Linked DNA regions of Homo sapiens. The protein of the gene in region 4 purifies or fractionates together with the protein of the main gene of each other region. This does not show direct contact. Each region holds a gene or a part of one and is shown on either strand. Other genes may lie near its edges.

What was found.
Region 1: the proteins of ANKRD22 (region 4) and BTAF1 purify together in Homo sapiens (co-immunoprecipitation; one large-scale study listed by IntAct). This does not show direct contact.
Region 2: the proteins of ANKRD22 (region 4) and NUDT2 purify together in Homo sapiens (affinity purification with mass spectrometry; one large-scale study listed by BioGRID and IntAct). This does not show direct contact.
Region 3: the proteins of ANKRD22 (region 4) and SLC7A2 purify together in Homo sapiens (co-immunoprecipitation; 2 studies listed by BioGRID and IntAct, with this or other methods). This does not show direct contact.
Region 5: the proteins of ANKRD22 (region 4) and LCLAT1 purify together in Homo sapiens (co-immunoprecipitation; one large-scale study listed by IntAct). This does not show direct contact.
Region 6: the proteins of ANKRD22 (region 4) and POLE purify together in Homo sapiens (co-immunoprecipitation; one large-scale study listed by IntAct). This does not show direct contact.
Region 7: the proteins of ANKRD22 (region 4) and ESYT2 purify together in Homo sapiens (co-immunoprecipitation; 2 studies listed by BioGRID and IntAct, with this or other methods). This does not show direct contact.

Annotation. Positions count from the first base shown.
Region 1 is NC_000010.11:91,993,270-91,996,769, reverse strand, and holds part of BTAF1 (TATA-binding protein-associated factor 172), read right to left. Parts: intron 3,077-3,500; coding exon 2,923-3,076; intron 2,236-2,922; coding exon 2,126-2,235; exon of another isoform or gene 2,113-2,125; intron 402-2,112; coding exon 200-401; intron 1-199. UniProt on the Homo sapiens protein: Regulates transcription in association with TATA binding protein (TBP). Removes TBP from the TATA box in an ATP-dependent manner.
Region 2 is NC_000009.12:34,328,286-34,332,368, reverse strand, and holds the start of NUDT2 (bis(5'-nucleosyl)-tetraphosphatase [asymmetrical]), read right to left. Parts: upstream 2,801-4,083; 5' UTR 2,770-2,800; intron 802-2,769; exon of another isoform or gene 1-801. UniProt on the Homo sapiens protein: Catalyzes the asymmetric hydrolysis of diadenosine 5',5'''-P1,P4-tetraphosphate (Ap4A) to yield AMP and ATP. Exhibits decapping activity towards FAD-capped RNAs and dpCoA-capped RNAs in vitro.
Region 3 is NC_000008.11:17,495,893-17,499,887, reverse strand, and holds the start of SLC7A2 (cationic amino acid transporter 2), read right to left. Parts: upstream 2,801-3,995; 5' UTR 2,651-2,800; intron 1-2,650. UniProt on the Homo sapiens protein: Functions as a permease involved in the transport of the cationic amino acids (L-arginine, L-lysine, L-ornithine and L-homoarginine); the affinity for its substrates differs between isoforms created by alternative splicing.
Region 4 is NC_000010.11:88,827,845-88,831,344, forward strand, and holds part of ANKRD22 (ankyrin repeat domain-containing protein 22), read right to left. Parts: intron 823-3,500; coding exon 715-822; intron 1-714.
Region 5 is NC_000002.12:30,520,246-30,523,745, forward strand, and holds part of LCLAT1 (lysocardiolipin acyltransferase 1), read left to right. Parts: intron 1-3,500. UniProt on the Homo sapiens protein: Exhibits acyl-CoA:lysocardiolipin acyltransferase (ALCAT) activity; catalyzes the reacylation of lyso-cardiolipin to cardiolipin (CL), a key step in CL remodeling.
Region 6 is NC_000012.12:132,623,262-132,625,802, forward strand, and holds the end of POLE (DNA polymerase epsilon catalytic subunit A), read right to left. Parts: intron 2,510-2,541; coding exon 2,384-2,509; intron 2,159-2,383; coding exon of another isoform or gene 1,919-2,158; exon of another isoform or gene 1,755-1,918; intron 1,734-1,754; coding exon 1,644-1,733; intron 1,550-1,643; coding exon 1,436-1,549; 3' UTR 501-1,435; downstream 1-500. UniProt on the Homo sapiens protein: Catalytic component of the DNA polymerase epsilon complex. Participates in chromosomal DNA replication.
Region 7 is NC_000007.14:158,826,710-158,830,671, reverse strand, and holds the start of ESYT2 (extended synaptotagmin-2), read left to right. Parts: upstream 1-1,162; 5' UTR 1,163-1,253; coding exon 1,254-1,583; intron 1,584-1,651; exon of another isoform or gene 1,652-2,490; intron 2,491-3,962. UniProt on the Homo sapiens protein: Tethers the endoplasmic reticulum to the cell membrane and promotes the formation of appositions between the endoplasmic reticulum and the cell membrane. Binds glycerophospholipids in a barrel-like domain and may play a role in cellular lipid transport.

The DNA.
Region 1 (3,500 bases), 3.2 Mb from region 4:
ATCATAAAATGCAAATCAGTTTGTAACACATTTGTAATAAAATACAAAAATATTTCAAAATAAGATGTAAAAAGAATAGGTATTTTTTGGAACAAGGCAGGTTATTTATGTGCATATTAGAACACATCAATTTCATTTTAATTATCCTTAAGTGAAATGAATATAATTCCTGAACAGTTTGTCAAATGAAAAAGGATACAGGCAAGTGCTTCAATTGCACCCTCTTGTTTGACACTGTCATCAATTGCTCCCAGCCACGGAAGAACCTTCTCCAAAAAAATATTCATTGTTTCCATGGTAGCTATTTTGCTCATGACACCTACACAACGAGCAGCCATGTGCCTCACTGCAGTACTGGGGTATTGAAGGCACATATAAAGATGTGGCAAATGCTGGACCAACTAAAAACAAAAAGTTAATGGCAATTAGAATTATTAGGAAATACTGTTTAATATGTAACTATAATAGCCCATACTCAGGAAAGTTTTCAATATTCTAAGTGACTCTAAAAATATCTCCAAATACTTCAAAACATTACTGCCAAAACATTCTCAATAGAAAACTAATCCAAATACAAATTAATGTATTACAACTCTTTCAAAAAGAAGGGAAAAAAAGGTATAGAACCTCTGCTCTGCTCATATCATCTCTTAGGCATATAGGAACACTCAATTCTTTCCAAAATTAACAGGAAACAAACCAAAAAGTACTTGGCAAGATTCTCCTACTGAAGCTGGAAAACAGCACCACACATCACCAGCTCCCTCCAAATTTGGTAGCACTAATTTAGATTTAGGTACATAATTTTTATTCAGTGGCTTGAGTGTTCCTGATTTTATTCTAGCACCATACTTTGGTAGGTATCGTCCACTGTAGCTTCCTGGCTTACCATAGGTGTTATAATCACAACAGCATCACAACAGCACCTTACTAAATGTCTGCTACAAGGAACACCAGAATTAATGCTGATGAGAGCCAGGTATCTGTTCAACAGTTTGATGTGCCTTACAGTTCAGCTGAATGCATGTTGCTAATTATGAAGATTAAGAGCGTACAGATGGACTCTACTTTTTTTTTTCCTTCTTTTTTTTTTTGAGACTGAGTCTCGCTCTGTCGCCTAGGCTAGAGTGCAGTGGCGCGATCTTGGCTCACTGCAACCTCTGCCTCCCGGGTTCCAGTGATTCTCCTGCCTCAGCCTCCCAAGTACCTGGGACTACAGGCATGTCCCATCACGCCCGGCTAATTTTTGTATTTTTAGTAGAGATGGGGGTTTCACCATATTGGCCAGGCTGGTCTTGAACTCCTGACCTCGTGATTCACCCACCTCGGCCTCCCAAAGTGCTGGGATTACAGGTGTAAGCCACCACGCCCGGCCTACTTTTCTTTACTAACAGTAAATCAGCAAAACTTTTAACAAGTAAAAGGACATACTTTATTACTATGTACAAAAAAAAAAATCCATTCTTCTCCACCCTCTCATAGATTCTCCCTTTTGTGTTAAATAACAATAGAGAACTGGGCTAATACCCTTCAAAATGGGGTAAATTGCAGACAGCTTCCTATTGCAGAGATATGAAAAGAATAATATTCTTCTATGAAAAAAACCAGATAATTCTCTATTTTCCTCCTCCCTCTGTCCTAATTCTTTTGTAAGAAACATTTTAATAGTTTTTTAAAAAAATCCCAAACCAGTGTTCTATCTTTGCCACTGACCAGCTTCACCTTAGGCAGGTGACTCCTTTCACCTTTGTACTTATCTAGGAAACAGATTTCATTATATATGCTTTTCCTTTCTTGGAGCTGTATTATTAGGATCATCTGGATGAACAGGGCTGCAGTTTTCTTTCCTATTTACATCTGGCTCCTGTGTCATCAGAGTCCTTTCCTCAATGCCCCCACATTCTAAGCTTCCAGGTTGGGTTTTCTATTAAATTCAAGCAGCCTGGTCTACATCAAAGCCCACAGGAGTTGCACTGTTAGTAAAGGAGGAATCTAGTTATACCACAGCAAAGAAAAATGCAATTAATAAGGATGACATCAAAGCTGTACCTTTCAAACCTTAAGACTTTTTAATAAGACCACTTGTTTTATTTGAAGAAATATTACACTTGCATTAGTTAGTTACCAAGGGATGAAGCTCAGAATCCATTGAAGCTGCTGCTGTTTCAAAAACCTGCAGAGAATTCACCAATTCTTGAGCAGGGCTATCTCCCTTATCCAGGAGGGATTTTCCATCTGTTAAAATATATTGTCTGTATTATCTGGCAAATAATTTTTCAAAATCTAGAGCACACAAAAACTTTTAGCACTTTTTCAGCTAGCATAGGAGAGTCAATTTTGCTTCTTAGTGTTAAAATTAAATGCCATGACCTTAATTTAAGTGCTGGGGTACTACATGTAGAGCAACCAAAGAACTTAAACATAGTGATCCATTTCAAGTATCTCTTTAAAAACAATTTTTTTTTTTTTTGAGACAGAGTCTCGCTCTGTCATCCAGGCTGCAGTGCAGTGGCATAATCTCGGCTCACTGCAACCTCCACCCCCAGGGTTCAAGCAATCCTCCTGCCTCAGCCTCCAGAGTAGCTGGGACTACACGCCCAGCTAATTTTTGTATTTTTGCTAGAGATGGGGTTTTGCCATGTTGGCCAGGTTGGTCTCAAACTCCTGACCTCAAGTGATCTGCCCACCTGGGCCTCCCAAAGTGCTGGGATTACAGGCATGAGCCACCATGCCCAACCCAAATATCTCTTTTATAAAATAAAGGTGTGTGTTTTTTTTAAACCAAGTTTCCATTTTAAAACTTACCAGCTGGTCTGGAATAAACAGGTAGAGGCATAGAGGCATTTTTATTTTATAAGGATATATTCAATTAATAGACATTAAAATTTGTTAAAAACTGGACTCATAAAAATATGTGTATACCAAAATTATTTATGTCGATTGTATTCCTCAATGGGCCAACCATAGCATCCCAGAGATGTGGCAACTTCACTGCCATTTCACCACCAAAATGCTTTACTATAGTTGTCAAAGCAAATTCAGCTCCTCTCCGTTGTACCAGGTAAGGCTTCTGGGCCTTAAAATTAAATGTTAGATAAAAACAGAATTTCAGAAAAAATCATAATACATTTAAAATTTTAACAAAAGAATTTAAAAGTCACCATCTAAGAATTCATAATGTTATCATTAACCAAGTAAGCAATTATTAGACATGTTTGTCTCAATTATAAACATTTCCCAATAATTAAATTTACAGGGGCCTACAACACCTAACTAGATTTTTGTGACCAAAGTAAAACACTTTTTTGGGGTTGAGGATAAGGAACAGACGGATATGTGCTGTTTCTAGAGATAGTCCTAAGTGACATTTTTTTTCCTCCTTCTCTCTACCTCAAAGAAACTTGTCAGCTAGAGAGAAGATAGATGAAGTGATGTGTCCTTATTTACATTCACTTAAGGGATAGTACAAGATCATCTGTTTAAGCTAACCCCAAGATTAA
Region 2 (4,083 bases), on a different chromosome or scaffold from region 4:
TAAGATGGAAAGGCAGCAAAGAAGCATCTTTAGGTTAACAAGGTACCCCATAAGGATTCTGATGGGTCACTAGTTTACCAGGCAGAAGGGAGGCGGATGCAAGGCACTGCCAGCAAAGGGAGGAGTGTGGGCAACACCCTCAAGCACAAAATGACATCTCATTGGTAAACAGCTTAGTTTATATTCTGTAGGCAATGAAGCCTCTGACTGGTTTTAGGCAAGGGTATAATTTGGTCAGACTGACATTTTACAAAGATATTCTAGCTGCAAGCAAGCTGGGGAACGAATTAGGACAGATTGGAGGCAGAGAGATTAACCAGTTACAAGTCTATTGCAACAGACCAGTTAACAAATGATTCCAGTTAGATCAAGGCAGAGGCTGTGAGAAAGGAAAGGAAGGGATGAATCTGAGAGATATTTCAAAGTAAAATGGACAATAGTGATATTTCATTGTCTAAGGGACAGAGAGATGTTTCATAAGCCAAGGGAAAGAGAAAGGCTTTGGTTTGAGTGCCTGGGTGGAGGAGGGGGTGCAAGTGAAGCATTTGTTTGGGACAAGTTGAATTTGAAGTGCTATAGTCTATCCATAAGATAAATGAACAGATGGGTCTAAAGTTCAGTGATCATCTCATCCTATCTCTTCATTTCCCAAGGTGGGAATTTACTTTTTTAAAATTATTTTTATTAAAACAATTTTTTTCTCCTCCCTTCTCTACCAAGACCACGGTGAAAATTTTCTATTAGAGCAAGATATTGCTCCTACCATAGGTACCTCTGCAGCTCACATTCCCTCCAATTTAGGTAAGTCAAGCTGTCCAACCTGCCCCTGCATCTGTCTGGTATTCCAAGCATTTTCATCCTCCTTTAGTCAGAAACACAGAAAAGCATGGCTGTCTATGCAGTCAGAAAGGCCTAGCTATTGAAGTTAATAGAGCAAGATACTTAGAGCAAGATACTTAACTTCCTCATTTGTAAAATGAAGTTAACACCTACTTTGCATGGTTGTTGTGGAGTTTATAAATGACATATATAGAGGGTCTGACATTATCAGAGGTACTAAATATATGAGTTACTGTTACCCGTGTGTCATAAAAGATCATCAAAAAGCTTCTCTGTTTTAAAGAAATGACTTTTCATCTTGTCTGTTAAACTGCTCAACACTGTTCACCACAGTATATATATTCCTTATAAGGTCCCACAGCATAAATTCCTTTTAATATAGAAACTAGAAAAATAATTTATCTTTTGAAGAATGGATTTGTTTCCTTATTAGTAAGAATTACCTTTTTTCCCTTAACTGACTAATTTTGGGCAAAATTGGGTACTCAGTTACAAAAAGTACACCAACGCACTGACTAGTGTATTTGCCTGTTCTTATTATAAGAATAATAGCTACCTTTTTTTTTTTGAGACGGAGTCTCCCTCTGTCGCCCAGGCTGGAGTGCAGTGGTGCGATCTCTGCTCTCTGCAAACTCCGCCTCCCGGGTTCGTGCCATTCTCCTGCCTCAGCCTCCCGAGTAGCTGGGACCACAGGCGCCCGCCACCACGCCCGGCTAATTTTTTGTGTTTTTAGTAGAGACGGGGTTTCACCGTGTCAGCCAGGATGGTCTCGATCTCCTGACCTCGTGATCCGCCCGCCTCGGCCTCCCAAAGGGCTAGGATTACAGGCGTGAGCCACCGCGCCCGGCCGCTACCATTTTTTAAGAAGTTACTACTCGCCAGGCGTTGTGTCAAGTGCTTTACCTTCATTATTTCACTTAATCTTCACAACAACCCGCTGAGGCATTACTGCCATTTTTCAGAAGAGTAGAAAGGGAACTATAGCTCAGAGATGTCTGGGTAAGTGACTCAAATGTAGGTCTGCCTGACTCCTAACATCAATGATCTTAACCTTAACTCTATAATAGCGTTTTACATTTGACAATTTGATTGCATTCAGTTTTTTTTTGTTTTGTTTTGTTTTTGAGACGGAGTCTCGCTCTGTCGCCCAGGCTGGAGTGCAGTGGCGCGACCTCCGCTCACTGCAAGCTCCGCCTCCTGGGTTCATGCCATTCTCCTGCCTCAGCCTCCCGAGTAGCAGGGACTATACGTGCCCGCCACGACGCCTGGCTAACTTTTGTATTTTGTTTAGTAGAGACGGGGTTTCACCGTGTTAGCCAGGATGGTCTCGATCTCCTGACCTCGTGATCCGCCCGCCTTGGCCTCCCAAAATGCTGGGATTACAGGCGTGAGCCACCGCACCCGGCCTGCATTGTTTACGCTGTCCCTTTTTTGTTTGTTTGTTTAAGGCGGTGGGGCTCTTGTTCGACTTTCTTTACTTCTGCTATAACTGCCACGATATTATCCATTCAATAACTGAAGCAATTAGAAAACATAAAATCTCTTTTGGAAAGCAGGCGGGGTTTAATGGGTAGCAACAAGTGAAACTGAGGCCCAGGGAGGGGAAGGTTCGGCGCCTGGGCCTCTGGGCCCTAAACCTGGACCTCTCCCGCCTCTGGGATTTGGACGACCCACCCTATCCCCACTCCGACGGGGACAAGCAAGGCTCAGAGTCAGGGAACCTCCCTTCTCCCGGTGCAGACAGGAAAACTGAGGTCCTGAGAGCGGATGGGACCTGGCCTGCCCACACCTCACTGCCAACTTAGAGGAGGGCGCATCCCTCTCGGGCCCTGCAGCGACCAGAGGTTTGCCAGAGGCAGATTCCCATCGCTCCAAGGCTCATTTCCTCCACTGAGAACTAAAATCAAGTGGGCCCTTAAGGGTACTCACCCGAAGCAGAAGGAGGTAGGAGGCGGACCTTGGACGGAAACTGAAGTACACCGGCCAATCAGAAGAGCCTGGTTACGCTTGGGCCCATCAATAGAATTCGGCAGAAGGATCTTCGACCCGCCTCAAAGGTGCGCGTCTCACACTGAAACGTCGCGAGATCTTCCCTCAAGCGGAACGATTGGCTGAAGGTCGGAAATTGAGAGTTACGCCCACGGTTTCTTCAGACCTCTGATTGGTCTTCCAGAGGAGAAGTCAACGAACGTCAACCGATTCCTTGGATGCCCATTGGTGGGCGGTGCGGGACTGGCGACGCGCGGGCCACAGCGCGGGCGTTCGAACTGGCGCTTGGCGGCGTTGCCATGGAGATGCGGCCTGGCCGCCGCCGGTGGCTCCCGGGTTGACGGGACTGTTAGGTTGCGGGCTTTGGGGCTCACTCCCGACGGCATTGTCTTCTCCTCTTCTCAGACAGGGCAGACCGAGGAGTTTGGACCGAGGTGAGAAAGGGCGGGGAGAATAGAGGAGGGGTAGGTCTGGTCCGGAACCGTGGCGCCTGCCCGCGGACACGGGTGCGCGTGACGTCGGCTGAGCGCGGGAGGAAACTGGCAGTTGTGAGGGAACCGAGAGTTGGCCCCTCTTGGCTCTTCCTAAAGTTCACCTACTTTCCTATCTTTCATCCCCATATCTCTGCCTTTTCTTCAGCAATTATCTTGAACGCCACTTCTCTCACTTTGGGAGACTAAACTCTTGAGTCCCAAAGCCTTCTTGCTTTTGAACCGATAAGCCTGACCGGCACCTCTTTTAGGGCATTTCTATTCGCCCTTGGGTTGTTTACTTCCGGGAAGCCCGTTCGCTTCCCTTTTCCCATAAAATTTTGAAGCCTTTGAGGTAAGGCAAGCATCGTTCACAATGTCTTGCACATAGTAGATTTTCAGGAAATATTTGTTGAGTTGAATTTAATTTACAAGAAATAGATTGGATTCCTCTTCATGCCCTGCCTTGTTGTCTCTCTGCTTCAGAGACGATTTTTTATTTCGAGGCTAGGGGGAGGCCACCCTAATCTTCAATGCAAAAGGACCTAAAAGTCCACACACAGTCCACAGCTGGCCTTTCTACTCTTTGTGAAAGGCTAAACTTTTTTGGATTGGTTGCTGCAACTCTTCCTGCATCTGTGGCTTTTAGCCTTGGTCTCCCAATAATTTTATTAGACTCCTTTTAGTCTTTGCTTAAAATAAACCATTCTGTTGCTGTATGCCAAGATAATTTATCTCCCTTTAGCTTCTTAGTGACCGGCAGCTATTGTCACATTTTAAGTGT
Region 3 (3,995 bases), on a different chromosome or scaffold from region 4:
TATTAAAATGGAAGACAATGACAAGAACAATTCCATTAGTTTTCTGTTGTCATTCAAGGTTGTATCTATATGGTTTTTAATATCCAGATTAAAGTTTTAGAAATTAATTAACAGCTTCGATTTTCAAGCCCATTTAGACAAGTGCTATCACTTAAGTGAAATCTTAGTTAACTAAGTTTTTCAGGATTCATTTGGATGACAAAGCATTCAAATGATGCACCCAAAACTAAATATGTGAGTATTTAGAAATATATTCCACTGAAAGCTTTTGCTTTTGTTCTAAATGTTTGGCATCTAGTAGGTAGTCTATAAGAGTCTTTAAAATCAGTGTGTTCATATCTACATGTTTGGGGGAAATAAAGCAAACAGCAACATGAAGGTGCTCCCAAGATTCTGTTCTGAAAGTTGTCCACCAAAGGGCACCAAAGTAAAACCAGCAGATGGCTCTGAACACACAGAGAGAGAAGGGGGGAGAGAGAATGGAGGGAAGAGGGACAGAGAGAGGGAGAGAGAAATGAGGGAGAGAGGGGGAGAGAGAGAGAGAGACAGAGAGAGAGGAAGAGAGAAAGGAGGGAGAAGGAGGGAAAGAGGGGGAAAGAGGGATAGAGAGGGAGGGAGAGAGGGAAAAATAAAACAAGAGAAGACAGAGGCTAGGTGAAATAGAGAAGTTGCCAGAGGACTTCTGGGAAAAAACATTTGAAAAGGAAGGACTGAAAAGAGAAGAAATGGGCACAACGGGGACTCCGGGTCTGGCCATAACAGCCAGGAGAAACAAGGGCTTAAGCCAGGAGGTCTGAAAAGAGAACAGAAGGTAGACCACCTAGAATGGGGACAAGGCACTTCCACTCTGCAAAGGTGAGTGTGCTTGCAGTGCAAAGCAAGAAACGTGAACTTTAAAATTCTTCAGGCACATGTGTTCAAAAGGCAAAGATACATGAGAATGCAAGATGAAAAACTCCAGCGCAAGATCAGGCTTTTTAAACTGCCACAGCTCCCCTGTCTCCCCAGCTAGCTTCTATTCGCCTTCCCAGGCTCCTAAGCCCAGTGACAGGAGAGACTCTGGAATGATCAGAGATTCTGGAATGAAAAGAGCTATGCCCACTGCTTAGGAGGCCAAGGATTCTGCAAACTGATCCCCGCAGATACCACAGCGCTTTACTCTGGTCTCCAAGGCCATGGCACACCCTAAAAGATTAAAATGCCTTAAGGTAAATGACCATTCCCAGATGAAGGCACAGAATGTAAACAAAGTGTGGGCCGAGGGAAGAAACTTGAAAAATCACAATAAAGTGGCCTCCCAGAGCAGGCAACTAGCAACTTTGTAGGAAAAGGAGAGGGAAGAAGTCCTGTGTTCTGCACTGAGAGATCATTTCATGTCACGCTTCAGTGCAATTAAAATAAAAAAGGATTTACTAATTACAAAGCAATCCTAACAAGGTACATAATACAGAATATTCACATCTTATACATCTCCTAGAGAAAGATTACAAACACAGAATGTTTCACCTTCCGGAGGAGATAATTATTAACTTTTAAAGACTAGCTCAGGCAAGAATGAAAAAGTATCAAGTCAAGGCCACATACATTCTAATTTTATAACCCAGGCGGCCCTGGATGGGATTCAGAGAGCTCTTATTTGAATAAGATCTGACGATATCCTCTCATTAAAAGGATTAGTGTTTCTGCACAAACGTCTAGATAAATCTTATTACTGGTCCAAAATTAGTCACCTAAAGGCTTTAGCCAGTTTTGCACAAATATTTACAACTCTGAAGAGGCTGAGTACTTTTTCTCTTGAAATCCAGGCACTATATCCACTTCAAAAGCCACATATGATTGTGGCTTTTGCTGAGCATATTTCTTTTCGACGAGTTGAAGATGACAATCTCTCAATACCTTACTCCATAGACTGGATGTAAGCGTCAAAAGAGGATGAAAAGGTACTTTCTGAACGGACAGGTACTCTGGGGTGATGGGTTGGGAGATTCTCTAAGCCTCAAGAACAGCGTTTCATGAAACGGGCTTATAAAATACAGCCCATCTCAAACGGATTTTAAAAGGCACCCAGTTACTTTAAAATACCCAATACAAACACCAAGACGGGCTATTTTACCAGGTCCCCTGCAGAATGTGAAGGGGCTTCCAGCGCTCCAAGCCGGCTTTCTAATTTAAGCCAAGAACCGAAAAGGAGCGAAGGCGGCTTCGGGGACCCCGGCAGCGTGCAGGGCCAGGAGGTTCAGCCTGCCCACCCGGAGAGGGGTGCGCCGAGCTCCTCTGGAAATAGTGACTGAAGGGTCCCCGCGAAGTCGCCGTGCCAGCCCCTCTCCCAGTTCCAGCGGTCCCCGAAGTCCCCGGGCAGAGCCGGCTGCACAGGGACCGGACGAGGCGAGGCGCATTCCGGGGCGCAGCCCCGAGGACGAAGGTCCACGGCTTCAGCCCCAGCCCACGGCCCCGACTCCCTGACGAAGACTCGCTGGAGCGCGGCCTCAGGGCAGCTGCGCGCAGCTGGACTCGTCCCCGGGAGCCCTCGACCCTCTAGTTCCCCGCCGGCCCCAGGGCGCCCTCGCCCCGCTCCTTCCCCGCCGGCCCCAGCGTCCGGGCTGCCCCTCGCCCGCGGCCTCTCGGCGGGGCTGGAGACCTAGCAACTTACTGGGGCTGGGTTGGGGTCGCGCCAAGAAGGCGGCGGTGGGCTGCCGGCTGCAGCGCGTCGGGGGCCCGCGGCTGGGGGACGCTGGAGCAGCGGCCGCCGCCTCGCTGGTCCCGCGAAGAGGAGCGCCCGCCGGCCGCGCTGCAGAAGGAGGGCTGGGCACGTGGGCGCCCCTCTGTGTAGCCACCCGGGGCGGGGGCGGGGCGCGGGGCCGGGCGGCACCGCCTCCTCCGCGCTCCCGGAACGCGACCCCGAGCCCGCCTCCCGCCGGGCCCCGGCCGCGCTGACCAATCCCCGGGGTGGGCGGTGTGCGGCCGCTGCTCAGCGGGGTTTGCCTGGAGCCGAGCACACGTGGGCGGGCGCTAGCCCCGGGCTAGGCCGGTGGGCGCGGGCCGGGGAAGAGAGGCTGCGCGCGAGGATAAACTTCGTGCTCTCCTGGGAGGACCAAACCTCAAGGGCATTTCCGAATCTTCTAAGCAGAGTTCTAAGTGGGGTTTTGGTCCCCCCGTTTACTTTCCATTCTACAAAGATTTTGGAAATAAGAAAATAATAATAAAATATAATAATAGCAATGATAAATGGAAGCCCAGGTGGATGTGCTTTGTCAAATGCAAACTAAACGTTGATAAATAATGTGCAGTTGCTATTTTGGAAGACTCCAGTGGTATGAATACGTAGTCACGATTGTTTGGGGGTGGGTTTATAGGAAATGACATTATTTCCAGGGGAGCAAGAGCAGAAGTTACACAATCAGGGTTTCTCCTACTGCGCTATTGTTTACTTTAGGAGTCTCTGATAAGATTAAGTCACAATGTGAAAGCCTGTTAATTTTCATCCAAAACGAAGCAAAACACGCACTGAATTGAACAATAAGTGTGTGTCAGTGTGTGTGTGTATATGTGTGTGTGGTTTGTCTTTAGAGACAGGGTCTCACTCTGTCGCCCAGGCTGGAGGGCAGTGACACAATCGTGGCTCACTGCAGCCTCGACCTCCTGGGCTCAAGCTATCCTCCCGCCTCAGCCTCCCAAAGTGCTGACAACTACAGGCTTGAGCCACCAGGCTGAGAATTACAGGCTTGAGCCACCATGCCCGGCCTATTACTATTTTTGTTTGACAGAAAGGTCCACTTTACTTTGCATAGTATTGGAGTAAACGTCCCTTTAACCCACCTACTAGTAATAACTTTGGCAAAGTGCCAGATTTGTATTGCTGCCTCACAGTACATATACAATTTTAATGTGATATTCTAAATCATTCTTCCCTTCAAGACATATATCCCCAAGATCATCTAATAAACGGTGTGGGGCTTCATTCCAGAAGATAGCACACACACAAAATCTCAATGTAT
Region 4 (3,500 bases):
CTCTTGAGTCATGTCTGAGAAGTGGAACTGGGCACAAAGGAAACTAGATGGATAAAAGTGAGTAAGTCAGTGCAGATCTGTTACCCTATTGGGAAAAAAAACCAAAAACCATCTCAAGCTTCATCTTCTACTCCTCATATGACTGCATCTCTATACCAACTACATCTTTCTTTATTCAAGAAAATTGCTGTCTGCCAAGATTCATCCAAGCATGAAGAAATTCATCAAGGTGAAAATGGGCTTAAATTCTCAACAAGTATCTTCTGTGTGTGTCAGCTTCTGGATGCAAACTTTTAGGATCTGTTTTTCAACACACCACCAGAGGAGTACTTAAAAATCAGTAAGTCAGAAAGATAAATCCAAAAACACAAACTCCTCTTTTAAAAAAAGGAGAAAAAAATATTAGAAGGGGTGTTTTTTAATATTCAGAATTTTTTTGCTCCCTTCAGAAAAGTCTTAGTTAAGGTTAAATTATTTTTCTAAATCAACATTGCATGGATTATGTTACCATTGATTAACTATTTTTGCTAGCTTTCTTCTTGCTGTACTTCAATTATAGCATTGGATGTATGTTGAACATGTCAATTACAGAATACAAACCAAAGGCTTTTTTTGTTTTTATTTCTTTTCAACATCTCACTGGCCTGGCAAGAGTCAATGAGTCACACCATCGATCTCCACATTTGCCCTTTGCTCTACAAGTGTTGTACTCACCATGAGGAAATACCCAATAAGCAGAACAGGCATTAAGAGGATAATTAGTAGATAATCAATGAAGGTAAATTTTTTCTTCACAGCATAATGCAAGCAGGTTCTCTCTTTCTAAAAATTAAGAAAAGGATTCTTTACTAATAAAGCATTTCAATTCAAAATTTATTCAGATGGCCATCTCAAAAAGTTTAGTTTGTGCTTTTTGTTTTTCCGGTACCCATGGCATCTTTTCCTGTGGGATACATCTGATTACTGAATGCGGCTTTCCATGGAGCAGAACAGAGAACTCGGTCCAGTGTAAAGGAAAAGCTAGGGAAGGGCTCCTGGGAGTCAACAAAGGTGAAATGTACACAGCAGAGCTCATCAGAAGACAGATTCTTATACCCACTTAGTTTTTGGAAAAAAAGATACACTGAGATATAAACTTAGGACTGAATTTACTATGAAAATTGATAGTTATCCCTTAATCATCTACCATGTGTACGATTATCCATTTTGTGGTTTGTTCATAGGAAAACTCTTAACCACATGGCTGTTTTTCATGTTCCTTCATGTGCATAGTCTAGAAGAATGCATATAACTCAATTTTATTCTTCAAATATGTGAATACTTATCAGGTAATAGATGTCAGCTTCCAAGGGTTGTGGGAGATGTGAACTCTTAGGGCCTCATAATCAAAGATGGACAGAAATATGCACAAATAAATATAAGGCAAAACAGAAGGTGGTAATTGGAATACCAATCAAATCAGTAAGAGGAGAGGGAGCCCAAGAGAAAGAAAGGAGGTTAGTTTCCACTTATGCAAGGCACTGTACCTAAATAAGAACACTTTTTGTTTTTCTAATATGAAGGCATTTATATTTTCTGTAAAAAAATTTTAGAAACTAGAGAGGAACATAACGATAGAATTTTAAATTGCCCATTATTATATTAAATGGTCCAGAGTTAACTGTTGACATTTTGTTGTATTTTCTTCCAGTCTTCTTAAATGCATAAATGTGGAATTTTGAAATGTAGAATGATATTGCATATGCAATATCATATCTTGCTTTTTTCAGTTCAGAAACGTATATTTAGAATATGTACATTTTTCCATGCAATTCAATATTTTTAAACATATGATTGTAATGGCTGCATGGCTTAGTATTGAGTGGAACTACTCTGATGTATTTAGCTAAGCCCTGCCTTTTGAACATTTCATGGTTTTTGAGGGTTTTGTTTTTGTTTTTGTTTTTCTGTGAGACAGGATCTTGCTTTGCCACCTAGGCGGGAGTGCAGTGGCACAATCCTAGCTCACTGCAGCCTTGACTTCCTGGTCTCAAGCGATCCTTCAACTTCAGCCTCCAAAGTAGCTGGGACTACAAACATGTGCCACCACACCTGGATAATTTTTTACTTATTATTATTTTGTGTAGAGATGCGGGGGTCTTGCTATGTTGCCTAGGCAGGTCTTGAACTCCTGGTCTCAAACTATCCTTCCACCTTGGCCTCCCAAAATGCTGGGATTCCAGACATGAGCCACTGCACATGGCCCGTTTCAAGTTTTAAACTTTTCATTTTTATAAATAATATTGCCTGAACCTGCTCATTCATAAATTTTTGTCAACATTTCCAAATTTGTCCTTTGCCTACATTTCTAAAAATAGAATTCCTGGCATAAAAAGTATTAATGCTTTTCATATTGCGCTATCAAATTGTGTTCTAATAAGACAATAATAACTTAAACTTTCTGATCAACATTTGTTTTCTTTTTTAATCTTGGTCAGTTTGACAGACAAAAACAAGGATCTTTATGTTTTAATTTAATTTGCTATCAATAGAATCCATAGGCTTGTGCTTCTGAATCTCCAGCAGAGCTTTTTGTTTGTTTGTTTGTTTTTAAGGTGTTTGTTTGTTTAGTGTTTCTGGAAATAATTTATAAACAGATTTCAGACATGAGAAATCACAGGTTCAAATTATTAATGTACAAATATTAATATTTGGAGAAAATAAAAATATTAAATGCTAACATTAGAAACATTTGAAAGTGGAAAATGCAAACCAAAAACTTCTACTGATAAAATCTATTAATCTAATGTATCCACTAAAGTCTTTTTCATGGTTTTTATGATACCAGAAAATCCCAGCAGGCTGGCTGAGGCCCTCCTCTTCTGCAAAGCGGAGATAAAAGTGTCTCCTCAGCCTTGCCCATGGGCTAACGTCTCCTCCCTCAGTTTCCTAACGAGCGCACCTCTTAAAAGAGCGCAGGAACCCACAGACATCTGTCTTCTGGCACTACCACTCACTGCAACTCCACATATCTGGTTTCACAGCAGTGATCTACAGAGATCCTATTATAGTCCACGATGTTGCATATCTGTTCCATTCAGCACAGGCATGACTTGCTTTTAATCGCAACCAAACCAAAAATAGTAAGCATAAATAAAAAAGTCCAGTAATGATCAATTTTCTGATAATACATTGTTACTCCTGATGAGCTAGTCTCCAAATGACTTAGAAGGGGCAAGGGGGGATTTCCAGTGTTTTCTCGCCTTGAATGCATATAAGTGGGTACAGGACAGTCATAATGATTGCAAAAAAATGGCTTAATATTTATTCAGTGTAATTTAAATATTGCCTTCACTACGATGCAAATGCTAGATGTTCAGAAAGGGCTCCACAAGGATTTTCACAGCAATACACACATATTCTTCTCTTTCTTGGTCCTGAAGGCTCCAAAGTAGCTAATATTGCATCTTTAAATATATTCTTTACACCTTTTTGTGTGACTTCAAGTAACCTCTGGCTCA
Region 5 (3,500 bases), on a different chromosome or scaffold from region 4:
CAAACACCTGCCAGTAACAGTAAGATAAGAAAGACATAAGGCTATCTCACTAAGTTTGTATAAATTCTAAAATTCAGAATAAGTTTTGTATGAGGTATTAAAAATTTAGTTTATAATTGTAACATCTTTATTTTATAGGCTATTTAAAAATAGGTGTATATTTAACTACAGATGTAATACATGGCTTGAAAAGGAAGCGTAGTGTAACATTTCAGACTGAGTGTGGACTCTGACACCAAGTTACCTGGCTTAAAGTTCCAGTTTTGTTATTTACTAGCTGTGTAGCCTTAAGTAAGTTCCTTAACCCCTTGCTGCCTCAGTATCGTTATATGTAAAATTAAGGTAATGAAAATACCTACATTATGAGATTGCTGTGACTGGTGAACAGGTCGGCATGTAAAATATATGAAACAGTGCCTGAAATATTTTAAAAGCTATATACATTTTAGGTGTTACTATAGTTGAAATAATCCAGAAAATTAGAATTCCCCGTATTATAAGAGAATAGTAAATATTGTCAGATTTTTATATACATAGCATAATTTTTTAAAAATTTATTTAAAAATCTACAAACAGTAAAGTTCACTTTTTTAAAAAATATACTTTCTATGGATTTTCACAAATGTGTATAGTCTTGTGACTGTCAGAGATGTGTGAACTGGAACAAATCCATCTTAAATAGGAGCTGGGTAAAATGAGGCTGAAACCTACTGGGCTACATTTTCAGACAGTTAAGGCATTCTGAGTCACAGGATGAGATAGGAGGTCACCACAAAATTCGGGTCATAAAGACCTTGCTGATAAAACAGGTTGCAGTTAAGGAGCTGGCCAAAACCCACCAAAACCAAGATGGCGACAAGAGTGACCTTTGGTGGTCCTCACTGCTACACTTCCACCAGCACCATGACAGTTTACAAATGCCAGGGCAATGTCAAGAAGTTACCCTATAAGGTCTAAAAAGGGAATGCATGAATAATCCATCCCTTGTTTAGCATATCATCAAGAAATAACCATAAAAATGGGCAACCAGCAGCCCTCAGGGCTGCTCTGTCTGTGGAGTAGCCATTCTTTTATTCCTTTACTTTCTTAATAAACTTGGTTTCAGGTTGCACCGTGGACTCACCCTGAATTCTTTCTTGGGCGAGATCCAAGAACTCTCTTTTGGGGTCTGGATCAGGACAGCTTTGCTGTAATGTGACCTAACTAGGAAATAGAACAGTTTCCTCAACCCCCTAAACTACTTCTTCTTTTTTTTTTTTTTTTTTTTTTTTTTTTTTTTTTGAGAGGGAGTCTCACTCTGTCACCAGGCTGGAGTGCAGTGGCACCATCTTGGCTCACTGCAACCTCTGACTCCAGGTTCAAGCGATTCTTCTACCTCACCCTCCCTAGTAACTGGGATTACAGGCACGCGCCACCATGCCCAGCTAATTTTTGTATTTTTAGTAGAGATGGGGTTTCCTCATGTTGGCCAGGATGGTCTCGATCTCCTGACCTCGTGATCTGCTCCCCTTGGCCTCCCAAAATGCTGGGATTACAGGCATGAGCCACCGCTGGACCAACCCCCTAAACTTATATTGTGTTGTTTCTTTGTAGTCAAACCATCTCCCTACTTGTAATCTTTGCCAACCGCTGATCTGTTTCCTTATCCTTTGGGTTTGCCTTGTCTGGAATGTCATATAAATGAAATAATCCAGTAAAAGATTTTAAAATCATATCTTTTGAGTCTGGCCTCTTTCATTCAGCATAATACATTTGAGATTAACTCAACATGTTGCATGGATCAGTAGTTTGTCGTTATTCTGAGTAGTATGCCATTGTGTGGATGTACTACGGTTTTGTTTATCCATTCTCCCTGACTGACATTTGGCTGGTTTCCAGTTTTTGGTAATTATGAATAATGCTGCTGTGAATAATTACGTATAGGTTTTTGTGTGAATATACATTTTCATTTGTCTTGGATATTCAGTAGAATTTCTGGGTTTTATTGTAAGTGTATATTTAGGATTTTAAGAAACTACCAAACTTTTCCAAAGTGGCCATCCCATTTTGCATTCCCACCAGCAATGTTTGCAAGTTCTGGTTGCTGCATATCCTTGTCAGCTCCTGGTATTGTCAGTGGTTTTATTGTTTTAAAATTTTTTTTTTTAGCTATTCCAAATAAGTGTATAGCTAGCATAATTTGGAACCAAGTTTGTCCATCAAACTCTTGAGACTTGGAAGAAGATAAAGAATAGGGCTGGATTAAATGCAGAGTCACATAGGAGCTCATAAGGAAGAGATGGAGAGACCATCAGATTTGTGAGAGCTTTGCAATTTCTGTCATATTCACTGTTGTAATCCCCAGATGACTAACATAGTGCCTGGCACACGGTAATTGGGATATCTTTGTATGTTTATTGAATCATTGAAAATCAACAAATGATTGAAAGGGAAGGAATAGAAGTAGGATAGAAGTAATTTTAGATTAGATTTGGTCTGAGTAATCCCAGTATATTCATGTGACACACACCTTTCTACCTGCTTAAGTCTGAGTTTAGAGACATATTTCAGGGCTAATTTCTGGCCCCTTCGCAGGAGAAAGAGAGCATGATATAGCAGAAGAAGCAGTAAGCAGAAAAGATTTGATGCTACTAATTTGTTGTGTGGATTTAGGAAAGTCTTCTTAACTCTCCTGAGCCTCAGCTTCATCACTGCATAATGAAAATATTTTATTATATGATAGCTAATTTATTTTTTTTCTGTTAATCACATCAAATCAGAAATTGGTGAGGAAGAAGCATGCCAGAGCCTTGATAAGGGAAGCATTATATATGGATACAACGTGAAGTGTAGCTCTGCAGGGAGTTGAGGGGTGAGTGTTAAACAGAGCTAGCTAATCACTAATTGGCAGAAAAAAAAACAGTAGATAGAAAACGGTAGTTACAGGGTTTCAAACAGAGCAGCAGCGTTGCAGGACTGGGGGGCGGGGTGGGTGTATAAAAGGAAGTAGGCATTAACAATACCAAATTAAGATGTTCGTAGGTTTTTTTTTTTTTTCTGGGGAGAAGCTAGCTATAGTGTCATCAACGCAAAGAGGAGGACCTGAGCCTCAGAGAAAACAAAGTTGAGGATAGGTGGTAACACAGACCACTCTAGGCCCCATGTGTGAGCTCTGGGAATTGTTCAGCATGCTGCTTTCCAGTGGCCTTTTTCTCTACCATTATTACTCCGTTACCCCACTTCTTTAAAGTTTAGGTCTAGAGTTTAGCAAAAAGCCAGCTCTTAGTTGATATTTATTCAGTTTGTACTTTGAAGGATTTTGTACACGTACTGTCAAGTATCAGTAGAAATTTAAAAATAGTCGGCTGGGCACAGTGGCTTACGCCTGTAATCCCAGCATTTTGGGAGGCTGAGGCGAGCAGATCATGAGGTCAAGAGAACCAGACCACCCTGGCCAACATGGTGAAACCGTGTCTTTACTAAAAATACAAAAATCAGATGAGTGTGGTGGCGCGTGTCTG
Region 6 (2,541 bases), on a different chromosome or scaffold from region 4:
CGGCCTGCACATGCTGTGTGGCTCACAAATATCCAGCTCATTTTTGGAGAAACTGGCTCTTCTGGTTGAGCCGCTGCTTGGGAACCAGGGCCAGAGCTTCCCGTTTCTGACCCCTCCACCACTACTCAAATGCCCGCAGCTAGCCTCACAGTGAACCCAGGCTGACTGGCGCCCACGGCTGCACCGGGCGACCCCTGGTCCTGCTAGGTGGCCTTCCTGGGGGACGAGCGGCTGTCCCCTGGCCCCATCACTCCTCATTCCTGAGGGTTCTCCAGATTCGCTTCCAGGAATGAAGCCTAGTCAGCCAGCCTCCCTCCTCCCCTGCTTGCCCTAATTTGATTTGATCTCCACTCTGGAGGCCTCAGCACTCCTCCATCTGAGCAGGCATCAGGTTTCTCCAGGCAGGCGGCCCCAGCAGCATCCAGGGGCCAAACACGTGCCCAGTGGTACCCAGTCCCCGATCTGAGGCGCTCTGCACAAATACACAGTGACAACCTAGAGAAACTTCAGTATGAAATACAAATAAAAACAAAGTGTAGCAGCGATGGCCTCAGACAGTAGATGGCAGGGACAAACTAAGGCTGGCTCTGGGCCAAAGACACGAGCCTCCTGGGGAGCCTGTGGGGCCCCCTCCCTCCTGTGAGGCTCTCGTCTGGGGTGTCTGCATTTCTGATTTACATTTCATACTTGTTTGGTGCCCTGTGAAATTGGCCTTTCTTCTTTCTGCTTCCAGCTGGTCCTGTGTGGAGGTGAAGGACAAGGGCTGCAGTGAGCCAAAAGTGAGGTGCACAGAGGTCTTGTTTTCCTGAGGCTGATAGAGGGTTCCCTCTAGACCCGGCTCCAAATAAGCAGGGCTCACAAGCCAAAATCCAGATTCTCACGGGTTAGGGTCTGGATTCCTGGGGAAACCAGCCCACAAACTGCTCCTGTGAGGCTGTGGGGCCAGCCCATTTCTCCATGCAAACAGGTGAGACTCCAGCCCCACCAGGGCCTTGGGAACCCGTCTCGTCTCAGAGCCCAATCTCAGGGAGCCAGAAGCCCCCAGGGGCTTTTCCTCCCTCTGGGAGGCAGGACAAAGAACTAGGGGCACCTAGAGGACGCTCCCACCCCACCAGGTGTGGTGCAGGAAGCAACAGAGGCCTGGAAAAGCATTCACTGCGTGAGAAACGGCGCCCAGGGCACTCGCAGCCTCGCTCACGGCCTGCTTCTTCAGGTGCTCTGGCGAGGCCAGGGCCACATCCTGCTCCCGCTCCCTCCTGTGACGTCTGAGCTCCCTGAAAATGGTTTTCTTTGGTTTCCTCCCCGTTCCCTGGCCTGGGGTCACAGGTTTGGACAGTCAGGGTGGTCAGTGGTCTGGTCACTGGAAGCACGGGGATGTGGCCTTGGCATCAGGAGGCCTGGCACGGACGCAGAGGCACCCGGGGCCCGGGGCTGGCTAATGGCCCAGCTGTGGGTTCTTCTGCAGCAGCCACTCCAGGGTCTCCAGGAGGTACGACATGCCGTAGTGCTGGGCAATGTTCCGGAATATTCCGATCTGTTCCATGAAGACCTGCAGGAATAAACAGGCACAGTGAGACCCCAGTCCACTCAGAGAGGAGGCCAAGGAGGCCAGGCTGAGCCGAGGCAGATGAGGGAGAGCCCACCTGGGTGTGGATGGTGAGGGCGAAGTCTCCCGCGCAGCTGCAGTACACAGGCATGCTGGTCTCCTTCACCCCGCGGCACTTCAGGCAGACCTGAAAGGGAGCAGCCCCGATGGGCGCCAGCCCTCCCGCGCTGGCCAGACCTGCCTGCTGCTTCTTCACAGGCTCGCGAGACACATTCGTGGGCCCATCAGTAAGCCTCGAGCCCCTGCTGTGTGCAGCCAGCCCTCGGTTATGAGTAAAATGCACGACCTCATCCCACGGTGCCAGCGCCTTCCCTACACCCACCCTCGCTGTGGATGTTCCACCCCAGATGCCCAGTCCTGAGGCCTCCTCCAGGCCCTGCTCACTCCCTCCATCCTGCAGGCCTGAACGCCGTGCACCACCACACGGCAGCTTGGCGCGTCCCCCAGCCTCTGCTCAGATGCCCCTCGGCAAGACCTTCCTGTGGCCGAGCTGTGCAACTCCCTCTTCCTCCTTTCCTTCTCTTCACACTTGGGAGTGTCTGCCTCCTTCCGCTAGAACGAAGCACCCACAAGGCCAGCTCTTGACCCAAGGCAGGTGCTCAACCAGTGTGGACAGAACAGTCCATCAGGCTCAGGGCATGGACTGGTCTGCAGGGCAGGCCCCTTGGAAGACACCAGGGCGTGCCTCAGGACCTGCACACACCCCGGCTCCCGGGAGTGCACAGAAACCCCCCTGTGGACTCCAGGGCACACGGGCAGGCGGCATGCACGACTCACCAGGTCCTGCAGGGTGAAGGCCATCAGCTTCTTCTGTAGAACTTCCACCAGCGTCATCTCGATGGCAGAGGAGTCGTAGGGCGCCTGACAGTTGGAGCAGAGCCACTGAGGCAGGACCGCCCCATCCTAGGCAGAGCAAGAGTGCGAGAGGTCACCAG
Region 7 (3,962 bases), on a different chromosome or scaffold from region 4:
TGAATATGCTCAAAAACAGTCAAGTAGGATGTTCTTTGCTACTGTTTGGCTTGGAGTTTCCTTGAAAGAAACTACAGAACAAATATAATTAACTCGATTGAATTCACTGGAAAGTAAAGTGATCAATAGTTGTGTTTTTGAGTTAACTGAAAAGTGACCTCAGGAATCACAGGAAAGGCCCAAAATTAGTCGTTTGAAACAGCTATTCATAGTTGGCCACAATATTAACACCTTCGGCGAAGCTGCGTGGTGCCCGGGGTGGAGTTCCCGAGTGTCAACAGCGTCCCTTGGGCGCTTGCGGTGGTCTTTGCCCGGCACTACCAGACCCCTCAGGGAGGACTTTTGGGATTAAAGGCATCTTAAAAGCCAACTGAACTGTGTGAGAGTTGTCAAGGTCACAACGGAGTCGTTTGTGTTTAAAACCCTGACAAGCAGGGTGGGAAGGGCCCCAGAGGCAGCGTTCTCACGCCGGAATGCCCGATAACAAGACCGTCCCGAGAGACTCCGCAAAAGCCACAACCTTGCACACTGGCTAGGCAACCTCACACCGAAAAATACCGGAGGACTCCCGCCAGCGGCGCCCGTCCGACCTCCGGCGGGCGGCGCCCTCTCACCCGTCCTCCTGGCCGCAAAATGACCGCAAACAGGGACGCCGCCCTCTCATCCCACCGCCACCCCGGCTGCGCTCAGCGGCCGCGCACCCCCACGTTTGCCAGCAGCTCCCAGAGGCGGTCAGCCTTTGGGTTTGACGACGGCAACTTCCCGGGCCTCGGCGAGCGCAGCCACGCACCCGGAAGCCGCCTCGGGGCGCGACGCCGAGCCAAAACCGCCCGCGGGCTCCGAGGCCACAGGCAAGTGGGGAGGGTGCCCCGTGGGGCTCGAGGGGACGCAGGCACGCCCAGCCCACGCACCGAGCACTCTCCTTTCCCGTCCCCGGCTCCCGCCAGCCGAGACACAACGCTCGCGTGATGACGTCGTGCGCCTGCCCGGCCCACTCCAGTAGTCTCCGACCCGGCCCACGGCCCGCCCCGCGCGATGACGTCAGTATCCACCCCGCCCGCTCCCGGTGACGTGCCAGCCCCAGGCCCACGCCGCTCCCGCCCCGCGTGATGACGCCACCGTCCCGGGCGGAGGCGGGCGTGCGGCGGAGCCGCGTCCCCTCAGAGGGGCGCTGGCGCGGGGCTGAGCCGCCCGGGATCAGCGCGAGCACCCAGCCCGCCTCGGCCGGGAGGGCAGCGCGGCACTGCGGGGCGATGAGCGGCGCCCGGGGCGAGGGCCCGGAGGCGGGCGCCGGCGGGGCTGGGGGCCGCGCGGCGCCTGAGAACCCCGGGGGCGTGCTGAGCGTGGAGCTGCCCGGGCTGCTGGCGCAGCTGGCGCGGAGCTTCGCGCTGCTGCTGCCCGTGTACGCGCTGGGCTACCTGGGGCTCAGCTTCAGCTGGGTTCTCCTCGCGCTCGCGCTGCTCGCCTGGTGTCGCCGCAGCCGCGGCCTCAAGGCCCTGCGCCTGTGCCGCGCGCTGGCGCTGCTGGAAGACGAGGAGCGCGTCGTGCGCCTGGGGGTGCGCGCCTGCGACCTGCCCGCCTGGGTGAGTGCAGACCCCTGCCCGTCCCGACCCCTGACCACCAGTCCCGATCTCCCCTCGTCCAGGCAGGCACTCCCCTCCCCGCGACCTGCCGCCTGGGTGAGTGCAGACCCCAGCCCTGCCCCGGCTCCCGCCTTCGTAGTCCCCCACCCACCCCGGTCCAGGCAGGCGCTTCCCTTCCGCCTGGGCGAGTGCAGACCCCAGCCCCGGCCCCCGGGCCGGTTCCTGCGACCTGCCAACCTAGGTGAGTGCAGACCCCGCCCCGCCCCCCGGCCCCGACTCCCAGCCTGCTGGCGACCTGCCCGCTAGGGCGAGTGCAGACCCCAGCCCCGCCCCGGCCTCCGGCCCACTCCCTGCGAACCTGTCCGCCTGGGGCCGCCGCCCGCTGCTCGCCGCTCCCGCCCTAGTCCTGAGTGCTCCGTGCCCTCCCTCCGTCCAAGTCGGGCGTCCCCTTCTCCGCTTCCCCGCCCGCCCAGGCTCCGGGTCCGGGGCGCGTCTGCCCTCGTGAAGCCTCCCCTCGCCGTCCCGCGCGGCTTTCTCGGAGACCCCTCTTCACAAAGCCCGCTTCCCTCCCCCGGCCTGCAGACCCCGAGCGCCAGCGGCAGGTACCGGGCTTGGCGCCCCCTCTTCGGCCGCGGCCCTGCCCGGAGCGCGCGCTTCCTCCTGGTGCCGCCCGCGGGGTCTCCTTAGGGGCCTGAGCGGCCGGTTCTGCTCTCAGAGCGCCCAGCGCGATTCTCGTGCGCATTCCCAAAGCCCTGCCGGCCTGGAAATGCTCCGGGTGGCTTCAGCTTTTCCTTCTCTCTGTTTTTTAAAAAACGTAATGACAGCTGGTGGGGGAGAAGTTAACTTTTTCTTCTACCGGGAGAAGACGCACTCGTGTCTTGGTTGTTTCTGACGCATTTCAAGGGCAGTAAGTGTCTCTCGAAAGATGTGGAGATATTAGATAATTGAAAGATTGTTTCAGTTTTTTTGCAAGTATAATTGTGAGACTGAGCATTTTTATATGGGATCGACCTGAATCCAGTGTGAATGTGTGTGTGTGTGGCAGGAAGTTTTGGAAGAGTTGCAGCAATAACAAGAGTCATGGTATTATTTTATTTTTAACCCGGCAGTTCTCTACCTCGTATATTTATGGACTATAGACACGAAGAGTTGGCTTCAAATCTTTTTCTTGTCATTCCCTAATTCTTTCTTAGCCATGACTTGGCTTCACAGTTTCACACTGCAAGAAAGGATTTTAATGATTCTTCCATTAGGCTTAATATAAACTTTGGGGTGAAGGTGACCAGCAGTGGGTTTCGGAAGGGTCATTTTCTCTTAGAGGAGAAAAGTCCCTGTTTCCAGTCATGAGACACCTGAGAAGTAAGGCATGACACAGATGGCAAACAAGAATTAGAAAGGAGGCGTGCCCAAGACAAGAAGAAGGTAGTAGATGCTACTTTGTGACGTCATATTGCAACTGGAGTAAGAATATAATGTAAGGAGCTTGGGAATGTACAGTTCTGCCGATGCGTGGTGAGCATGAGGGAGTCATATTTGGAGAACCAAGGTAACTGGCATGGTGCAGCTTTTAGCTAGCGGCGGGAAAAACCGAGGGGTGTGTAGAAAAAGGAAGTTAAGAGGAACCGAGGTGGGGAAAACTAAGAACAGAGGAGGTGCACTTTGGAAATGGAAAAGGACTTTAAAGTGACGTTTTGTGTCTATATTACACTAAGATGCATAATACTAAAAAGTAGCTAAAAACAGAGTCCATTAGCATCCATTGCTATGTTATATTGATAACATAGCAATGTTATCAGTGCTGAAATTTGCAGGAAGTGATGATGCTGACTTTCATAGATACTTGGTTATTGGCTAATATCAAATTTGCTTGTTAAAAATCTTTGTGAAACACAGATTTTCTTTTTCTTTTCTTTTTTTTTTTTTTTTGAGACAGAGCCTCTCCCTGTTGCCCAGGCTGGAGTGCAATGGCGTGATCTCGGCTCACTACAACCTCCGCCTCCAGGGTTCAAAAGATTCTCCTGCCTCAGCCTCCCGAGTAGCTGGGATTACAGGCGTGCACCATCACGCCCAGCTAATCTTTGTATTTTTAGTAGAAACAGGGTTTCACCATGTTGGCCAGGCTGGTCTCAAACTCCTGACCTTGTGTTCCGCCTGCCTTGGCCTCCCCAAGTGCAGGGATTACAGGCGTGAGCCACCGCGCCCGGCCACACAGACTGTACAGATGAAATTGCTGCCCTATTGAAGAACTGAAATTTTTTTTTTTTTTTTTGAGACGGAATCTCGCTCTGTTGCCAGGCTGAAGTGCAGTGGCACCATCTCAACTCACTGCAACCTCCGCCTCCCGGGTTCAAGCCATTCTCCTGCCTCAGCCTCCCGAAT